2 linked regions of the Homo sapiens genome follow. The protein of the gene in region 2 purifies or fractionates together with the protein of the main gene of each other region. This does not show direct contact. Each region holds a gene or a part of one and is shown on either strand. Other genes may lie near its edges.

Region 1 (4,300 bases), on a different chromosome or scaffold from region 2:
AAAGTCCTGCCTGGTCCCTGAGACCATCATATTCTATAGTAATATAATCTGCATCAATGCGTCACACCCCAATCTGGAGCAAGGCATGCTCCACCAGCCGTGATCCCACCGCCACCAAATTTTGTGGGCCTGTGAGGACCCACCCTCTAGCTTTCTTAGGTCTACACTGAAGAGTCTTACGTTCTTGGTCATCAGAGCAAGAGGCAGACAGTCCCCGCCGCAGAAGATGAGACAAGGCTGGAGGAAGTGAGGCGACTTTCCCAGAAGAACAGGACCAAAGCTGGGCTGAGCCAGGGCCTCCTTCCCTGGATTCACATGCCCCACACCTGGACCTTTGCTTTTTCTTTTTATTGTGGGATTTATTTTATTTTATTTTATTTTATTTATTTATTTTTGAGACAGAGAGTCTCAAAAAAAAAAAAAAAAAAAAAAGGACCGTGGTCTTTCTTTTTTTCTGTCGCCCAAGTTGGAGTGCACTGGAGTGATAATAACTCACTGCAACCTTGACCTTCCAGGCTCAAGCAATCCTCCAACCTCAGACTTTCCAGTAGCTGGAACTACAGCGCTATGCCACCATGCCCTGCTGATATTTTGCATTTTTATAGAGATGGAGACTCCCCATGTTTCCCGGGCTGGTCTGTAACTCCTGAGCTCAAGTGATCCACCCAATTTGGCCTCCCAAAGTGCTGGCATTACAGCAGTGAGCCACCACAGGTGCCACAGTTTTATTTTTATTTATATATTTATTTATTTATTTATTTTTGTGAGTTTTGCTCTTGTTGCTCAGGCTGGAATGCAATGGTGGGATCTCTGGCTCACCACAACCTCCTTCTCCCGGGTTCAAGTGATTCTCCTGTCTCAGGCTTCGGAGTAGCTGGGATTACAGGCACCCGCCACCACACCCGGCTAATTTTGTATTTTTAGTAGAGACAAGGTTCTTCTATGTTGCTCAGGGTGCTCTCAAACTCCCAACCTCAGGTGATCTGCCTGCCTCAGCCTCCCAAAGTGCTGGGATTATGGATGTGAAACACTGTGCCCTGCCTCACCTTGACCTTCTGATCCAACAGAGTCTGGGGGAGCAGAGCCAGGGGCAGGTGTGTCTTCAGGAGTCGTGGGGCCGGTGTGTCTTTCAGAGTCTCCATCCCTGAGCAGTGGGTCAGGGAAGGTCTGGTGAGCTGAAGCCCCAGCCCTGTCTTCCTCCACTCCCCTTGCACCCAGGACACACTCACACACCTGAGGGAATCCCTGGGGCTTTGAACTCAAGGAAGGGCACCCGCATGAAGATGGGAGCTCGGTGACACTTCTCCAGGTCACCACCCTGGTAGATCATGTCCAGAATCTGGCTTACCCAGGTAGTGCCTGGAGAGGGAGGGAGATGGGAGGTGAGCAGGCTGAGGGCACGACCTCGCTGGCCAAGGTGGGGACTGCCACCTGGGAGAGGGTGGGTGGCCCTCCTCACTTACCGGACTTGGGGTAGGTGCTGATGAGCAGGTCATCAGGCCGGGCCTGGAAGCTCTGCAGGGGCCCCAGTGCCTCTGCAAAGTACTTGATGAGCGGGACCCCCTTCACGTACTCCAGTGGCGGGCGGGAGGTGTCCTGGATCAGCTCCATGTTCCTGCGTCAGGGGCCAGAGCCAGGCCCGTTCCCTTACCACCATCACAACAGCAAGAAAGTGGAATTCTTGCTTTCAGGGAAGTCACTGAGGCCTAGGGAGGCTGAGTGACTTGCCCGCACTCACAAAGCCACTCAGTGGCGGGGCTGGGGCTGAAAACCAGGTCGGGCTCTAATGCGGTGGTTCCCCAGCCTGGCCTCACCTTTCATTCACCTGCGGAGCTGTTCAAAATCCCAGGGCCTGGGCCATGGTGCAGACCAGTGAAAGCACCCTCGTCGGGCAAGGCCCAGATGTCAGGGTGTGTGAAGGTCTCCAGGAGAGTCCAGCTGCACTGAGGAAGCTCTAGGACCTTCCTGTGCTGTCTCCCTGCCAGCCAGCGCCCTTTGTCTCACCACTTCCTGCTGGGACCCCCAGCCTCCACCCAGTGGAGATGCTCCCCTCCTTGAGCCCCTCAGCCCCTCACATGTGGAAACCGCCCAGGCCAGCCAGGCCTGTGATCCACTTGCCTGGCCACAGTCCATCTGGGCTCCAGGACAAACACGGCCCATTGAGGAACTGAGCTGCTACTAGGGGCCAGAGCTGCTGTGGGAATGAACAAAACTCTGATGACTCAGCAAAAGCACAGGCCTAGGCAGGGTGGCTCCCACCTATAATCCCAGACCCTAGGGAGGCTGAGGCCAGGAGTTGGAGACCAACCTGGTGCAGCATTGCAAGACCCCATCTCTAAAAATCTTTAAAAAAATTCTTAAACATTAACCAGGCAGGATGATGAGGGCCTGTAGTCCTAGCTACTCCAGAGGCTGAGGCAAGAGAATCACTTGAGCCCAGGAATTCAAGGCTGCAGTGGCCAGGATCCCACAGCACTCCAGCCTGGGTGACAGCAAGACCTGGCCTCCCCGGGGAAAAAAACAAACAAACAAGGGAAGGGAGGGGGATTCACGCAGGCCAGGGTTGTCTGAAATGGGATATCCATGGGGAAAGGGCAGGGATGCCAGAGGCCTCAGCTTCTGGAATGTTAGAGCCACAAGCTGAGCAGGGTGAGGGCGCCCTGGGCCGTTCCACTGTGTCACTCACCTGAGCTCTTGGGAACCTGGCCTCGTGCCCTCCTCGCCCGCAGTGGCTGATTGTGGGTGTTGTGTGGGGAATGCAGGGTTGTTCTCTGAGCTGAGGGTTTCCTAGGTCCACTGTGGGAGGGATCTGGAGCCGGGGCTGGACTTAGATTTGCTTCCGGAAGGAAGGGGTGGGGTTGGGGGTGGGGGAGCTTCTCCATTACCCTCCTTAGTGTGCCAGCTGGAGACAAGCTTAAAGTGATCTCCAAAGCCACGACTGAGTTTGCTGTGTAGAAAACAGAAGAATGAAAGGGGAAAGGCCCAATGGTGGGTTTGTTTTTGTAGGTTTTTTTTTTCTGTTTTTTTTTTTTTTTTTTTTTTTTTTCCGAGCTGTCACTGGGCTCCTGACCTGCCCCTGAACTCCACCCTGCCAGGCAGCCAACAGACAAGCTCTCTCTAATTGACCCAGGCAAGAGAGGGGAGGGATTGGAGGAGAAAGCTGGGATAGGCAGGCCCTGGAAAGGTCACCTACCTGCTGGCTCCAGGCCAGTCTTGAAGGTGCCAGGGGTTCTGGCCCAGTGCAGCCCACAGGCCCCCAGCAGCCCATGCACTCCAGGCTCTGACCACAAGGCCAGTCTAGAGGGATGTGTGTGGGCAGAGTGAAGGGGCAGGGGTGGAGCAGAGCATGGATGCATAGAACAAGAAAGAACAAGGACACTGCAGTCCCATTGCCCTGGGAGTCAGCCCCAGCTTCATGGCTCCTGGGGACCTCAGAGAACATTGATAGAAGATCCTAGAAGAACCACAACCCGTGGCAGGTGGTTTTATTTCCCTGGGTTTGAAGGAGGCTCCACAGACAAGAGACCAGAGGAGGCCGAGGTTTGGAAGCCACAGGGCCCCGTGGAAGGGGGGCATCCCCCCATCCTCCTCGTTCTTTATCCTCACTTTAAAGTCCAAGGTCAAGCTGTGCACGAGACAGGTAAACAACCATCTGAGTAAAGGTGAATCTCCCAAGACTTCCAAGAAATGCGTGAGTTCAGAGGCAAGCGGACAGGTGGGAGTGTGGGGGAAGCTGAGGCATGGGAATTCCAGGCAGAGGAGAGGCTTCTCATATGCTAGGGCCATGGACCCCTCCTCCCTCCTCTGTGCCCATGAGGAATCCCCGTGACTGGCAGGTCCTCAGGCTACTAGCTCCACCCCTGCCCTCAGCAACCCTCAGGAGGTTCCCTTGACTAAGACTTTGTATTGCACTCTAGTAACAACCTGTCGGACCCACACGGGGTGACACAGAAAAGAGGCGAGAATGTGAGATTAATAGAGTGGTAGCAAGTGAATACAAAATCCCAGGCAGCAGTTTCACATGAGGAGAAGAAGGAAACTTGAAATAGCTGCATGCGCTAAGGGCCAATAAGTCCCTGAAAAATAGGATGAGGACCAAGCTGGCTACGACCAACCAGACACAACATGGCGCTGTATTTGATGTAGGTTTCACCTAGGATCTCATTGTATGATCAGTAACATATGAAACCGTACACCCACCAGTGCCAAGACGGCTCCAGGAACACCTGTATTTGGGTGTAAATTGTGGCACCACGGTCTTGAGAAATCTTTACCTTTTCCTGGACTCTTCATGAATATA
Region 2 (3,500 bases):
TTACTTGAGACAGGATCCTTAAAGATCCCTAGGCCCTGTCTGCAAACCATTATTTTATGACTCTAACACTGAAGAAAACCTTCTCTGTGAAAACTGCAATTTGAAGACCATTAACCTGCTCCCAGGTGAAGCGCACGGAGGATGGCACCACCACCAGGAGCGGCCACTCCTTCCGGTAAAAGGCTGCGATGCAGATGGCTTGGATGGTCTTCCCCAGGCCCATGTCGTCAGCGAGCAGCAGGCGGCCTCCTTTGGCTATGGCAAAACTGAAGGCAGACAAGGTGAGGATGGCACATTTCCCGGGGCATGAGTTCATCTGCCCTCATGTCCGGTGGGTCAGCACTGCTGGGTGAAGGCCACTTCACTGGCCAGCCCGGGCCCAGCCCACCACCAGACTTGCTCCCCAGAAGGAAAGGTACATAGGCCAAATAGGGAGCAGAATAAAAAAGAGAGAGAGAGAGAGAGAAAGCCCAAAAAGGAAAAATGTGGAATGTGGTCAAAAGGGAGAAGATCTGGAAGATGATTAGGTCGTGGAGGCCAAAGAAGGAAGTTTCCAGTGAGAGGAGTTGCCTCGGCCCACTGTAGGCAGGGCACAGGGGACGTACATGGAGGAGGGTGGTGGGAGTCCAGGACTAGCACTGAGGAGGGCATGCTTACTCACTCCAGAGTCTGCCTTGAAAGGAAGGAAAGGGTCGGGCGCGGTGGCTCATGCCTGTAATCCCAGCACTTTGAGAGGCTGAGTGGGGCGGATCACCTGAGGTCAGGAGTTTGACACCAGCCTGACCAACATGGTGAAACCCCATCTCTACAGGCACATGCCCGTAGTCCCAGCTACTTGGGAGGCTGAGGCAGGAGAATCGCTTGAACCCGGGAGGCAGAGGTTGCAATGAACCGAGATCACACCATTGCACTCCAGCCTGGGCAACAAAAGCGAAACTCCATCTGAAAAAAAAGAAAAAAAGAAAGGAAGGAAGGAAAGAAGAGCTGGTAGGGTGAAAAGAAGGCTTTCTGAAGATCAGAGAGTACTCAGTATGCATAAAGGCAGAGAAAGGGGCTGGCAAAGACAGAAGATGCTGCTAATGAGGACAGAGGCGAGAAAAGGATGGGAGGAAGGGTGCTTGTCCAACAGGAAGCACCAACCTCAGCACTGAGTTTTTCACTATGGCAGCCTCCAGGACCCTAAAGCCCTTAAGTGCAGCATCCCTTGCTAATAGTTCATGAATAAAGGTGTATTCCACTATTTCAGAGCCAGATTGGCTGGGGTTGGAGTCCCAATTCCATCACTCAGCAGCTGTACACCTTCATGCACATGATTTAACCTCCCTATGCCTCAGCCCCCTCAGCAGTAAGAAGGGAGTAATAACAGTACCTATCTCATGGAGCTGTGGGAGGGTTAATAAAGCTAATACTGAAAACAGTGGTTGGCAACATCATAAGTGCTAAGGAAGTGCTTCTATCATAACTACTATTCCACAAAAAGAAAAAGAATCAAAACACAAACAGTAAAAATGACTTGCTCGTGTCGCATGATGAAACAGTGAAAAGCTAAAAGGATCCCAAGTGCCAGATGTCTGGTCCTCTGTGCCAAATACTAGTCTTCTTTCATCTAATCTCTGAAAAATAGATCATTTGCTCAGAATCCTGATAATAAGCCGCTGGGATAGTTCTTTCTCTTTCCTTCTCACACAGTGAAAACAGAGAATGTCACCTCTTCTAATCAGCAGCTAGCAGGGCGGACAAGAAGTCTAGGCTGCACTTGCCCTTTCTGAATTGCCTGGAAACACCGTTTCCAAAGATGGAAAACTGGGCAGCAAATCCCCAGGCAGCCCGAAGCCAGTAGAGTGTGGGGACAACAGGCATCATGGCGTGGCACCCTTCTGTTCTCCCTGCAGCCTGGGCGGGGGCCTGCCTAGGAGAGGGGGCAGCCCTTCCCAAAGCCCAGCTTTGGCGGCCTCACCCTCCACTGGGGAGGAACGGAGCCGAGCAGTGGGCTGCCTCACCTCTCCAGAACAGGCGCAGCCTCCTCCCTGTACACCCACCTCTATGAAATCTTCTGGACCATTTCTGGGATCAACCCACAACACAGACAGATGGGGGGAGGGCAGGTGTGAAAAGATGTATTTTTTACCTCACTTTCTGATTTACAAAATTGGTGGCCAGCGAGGACAGGCAGTACCTAAGCAACGGAATCCATGGAGAGCCCCACGCCCTTTGAGCGTCTTTTGTTTCAGCCTTCTCAGCTTTACCATCTATAATTTCCAGAAGTTTGGTCTATCCGCATCCTTAGAGCAGAATGGACCCCCTGAATTTCACATTCTCTCCTTTTTCCCCTGCCTAGAGGGAGCCCAACTAAGGAACAAAGTGGCCAAAAAATGACAACAAAGACAGAAAAAGCCTGGATAACAGAGGAACAATAACATAAGTAAATGTCATCCTCCACAGGGCAGTTGAATACAATAGAAAAAAATGTCATACTCAGAAATTAATCAATCAGAAAACACAGATTTAAGCCCCAACTCCACTTCTGACTGCTGAATAACTTTAGGCAACTGACTGCCTTTCTAAGCCTCAATTCATTCACCTGCTGAAGAGGGTGACTTGGATATTAGAAGATGCTGATATTTCTAAGAGATTTTGCTTTATAAATTAATGGGTGTGTTCAATTGTAGTTCTTGCATTAAAGAAAACAAAACAAAACATAGAATTGACAGCCCTCCTCCCCCAATGCCAAACCCCCACCTCTTCAGACTATGAAAGTTAAAATCTGAGTTTATTTAGAAAATTCTGAAGAAAGATTACAAGTACTTTAGAGCCACAGAGAGAGAAACAGATCTGCCCTGGGGCGCCTCACACACAGAGCCTCTCTCAGGGGTAATGGGGTAACTGGTAAAACCAGCACCCAACACGTGGGCCCAAGGATGGCTAACAGTGCCACGAAGAACTTGGATGCTGAAGGCAGGGGCTGCCCAGGGGGTGGGGCTGGGCAACCTCTACTGCAGCTTTAATAAAGAGGCCCAGAGAAAGAAAGATGAAAGGAAAAAACCACCCTGAGCCTGGTTAAAACAAGGCCCAAAGGACATCTCACCAGCTGGAGCATTGGAATGGCAATGCCAGAGGAGGTTTTGCAGAGTGTGCTATGTAAGAGAGATGGAAGGAAATGAAGAAAAGAATTAGGGGGAAGGGCTGGGGCCAGGTAACATAATAAAGTGCACTGTGCCCAAACGGCACACCGAGACCCAAATCCTGCCAGAGACGGTAGCCAAGCTTTCACCAAAATACCACAATCAGGCTTCGAGCAGGCAGGCTGTTGTGGTTTGTCAGTGCCATTGTTAATTTAGGTTCCTTCCCTTGCACAGGGCTCTATGTTCAACTACACTGTCTAATAACAGCTTCTTATTTCTAGACAGACTATCAAGACTTCCTCTTTCTTCTCCTTGAACTCCCATATTTTTAAGAGAAGGCTAGTTCAAATACGGCATTTTGCTTCTCCCAAGAAACTC

What was found. Proteins that work in one complex are often made in the same cells at the same time.
Region 1: the proteins of SMARCAL1 (region 2) and SULT1A1 fractionate together in Homo sapiens (co-fractionation; one large-scale study listed by BioGRID). This does not show direct contact.

What each region holds. Positions count from the first base shown.
Region 1 is NC_000016.10:28,607,245-28,611,544, forward strand, and holds the start of SULT1A1 (sulfotransferase 1A1), read right to left. Parts: upstream 2,801-4,300; 5' UTR 2,687-2,800; exon of another isoform or gene 1,616-2,686; 5' UTR 1,612-1,615; coding exon 1,464-1,611; intron 1,360-1,463; coding exon 1,234-1,359; intron 1,145-1,233; coding exon 1,047-1,144; intron 1-1,046. UniProt on the Homo sapiens protein: Sulfotransferase that utilizes 3'-phospho-5'-adenylyl sulfate (PAPS) as sulfonate donor to catalyze the sulfate conjugation of a wide variety of acceptor molecules bearing a hydroxyl or an amine group.
Region 2 is NC_000002.12:216,429,484-216,432,983, reverse strand, and holds part of SMARCAL1 (SWI/SNF-related matrix-associated actin-dependent regulator of chromatin subfamily A-like protein 1), read right to left. Parts: intron 267-3,500; coding exon 116-266; intron 1-115. UniProt on the Homo sapiens protein: ATP-dependent annealing helicase that binds selectively to fork DNA relative to ssDNA or dsDNA and catalyzes the rewinding of the stably unwound DNA. Rewinds single-stranded DNA bubbles that are stably bound by replication protein A (RPA).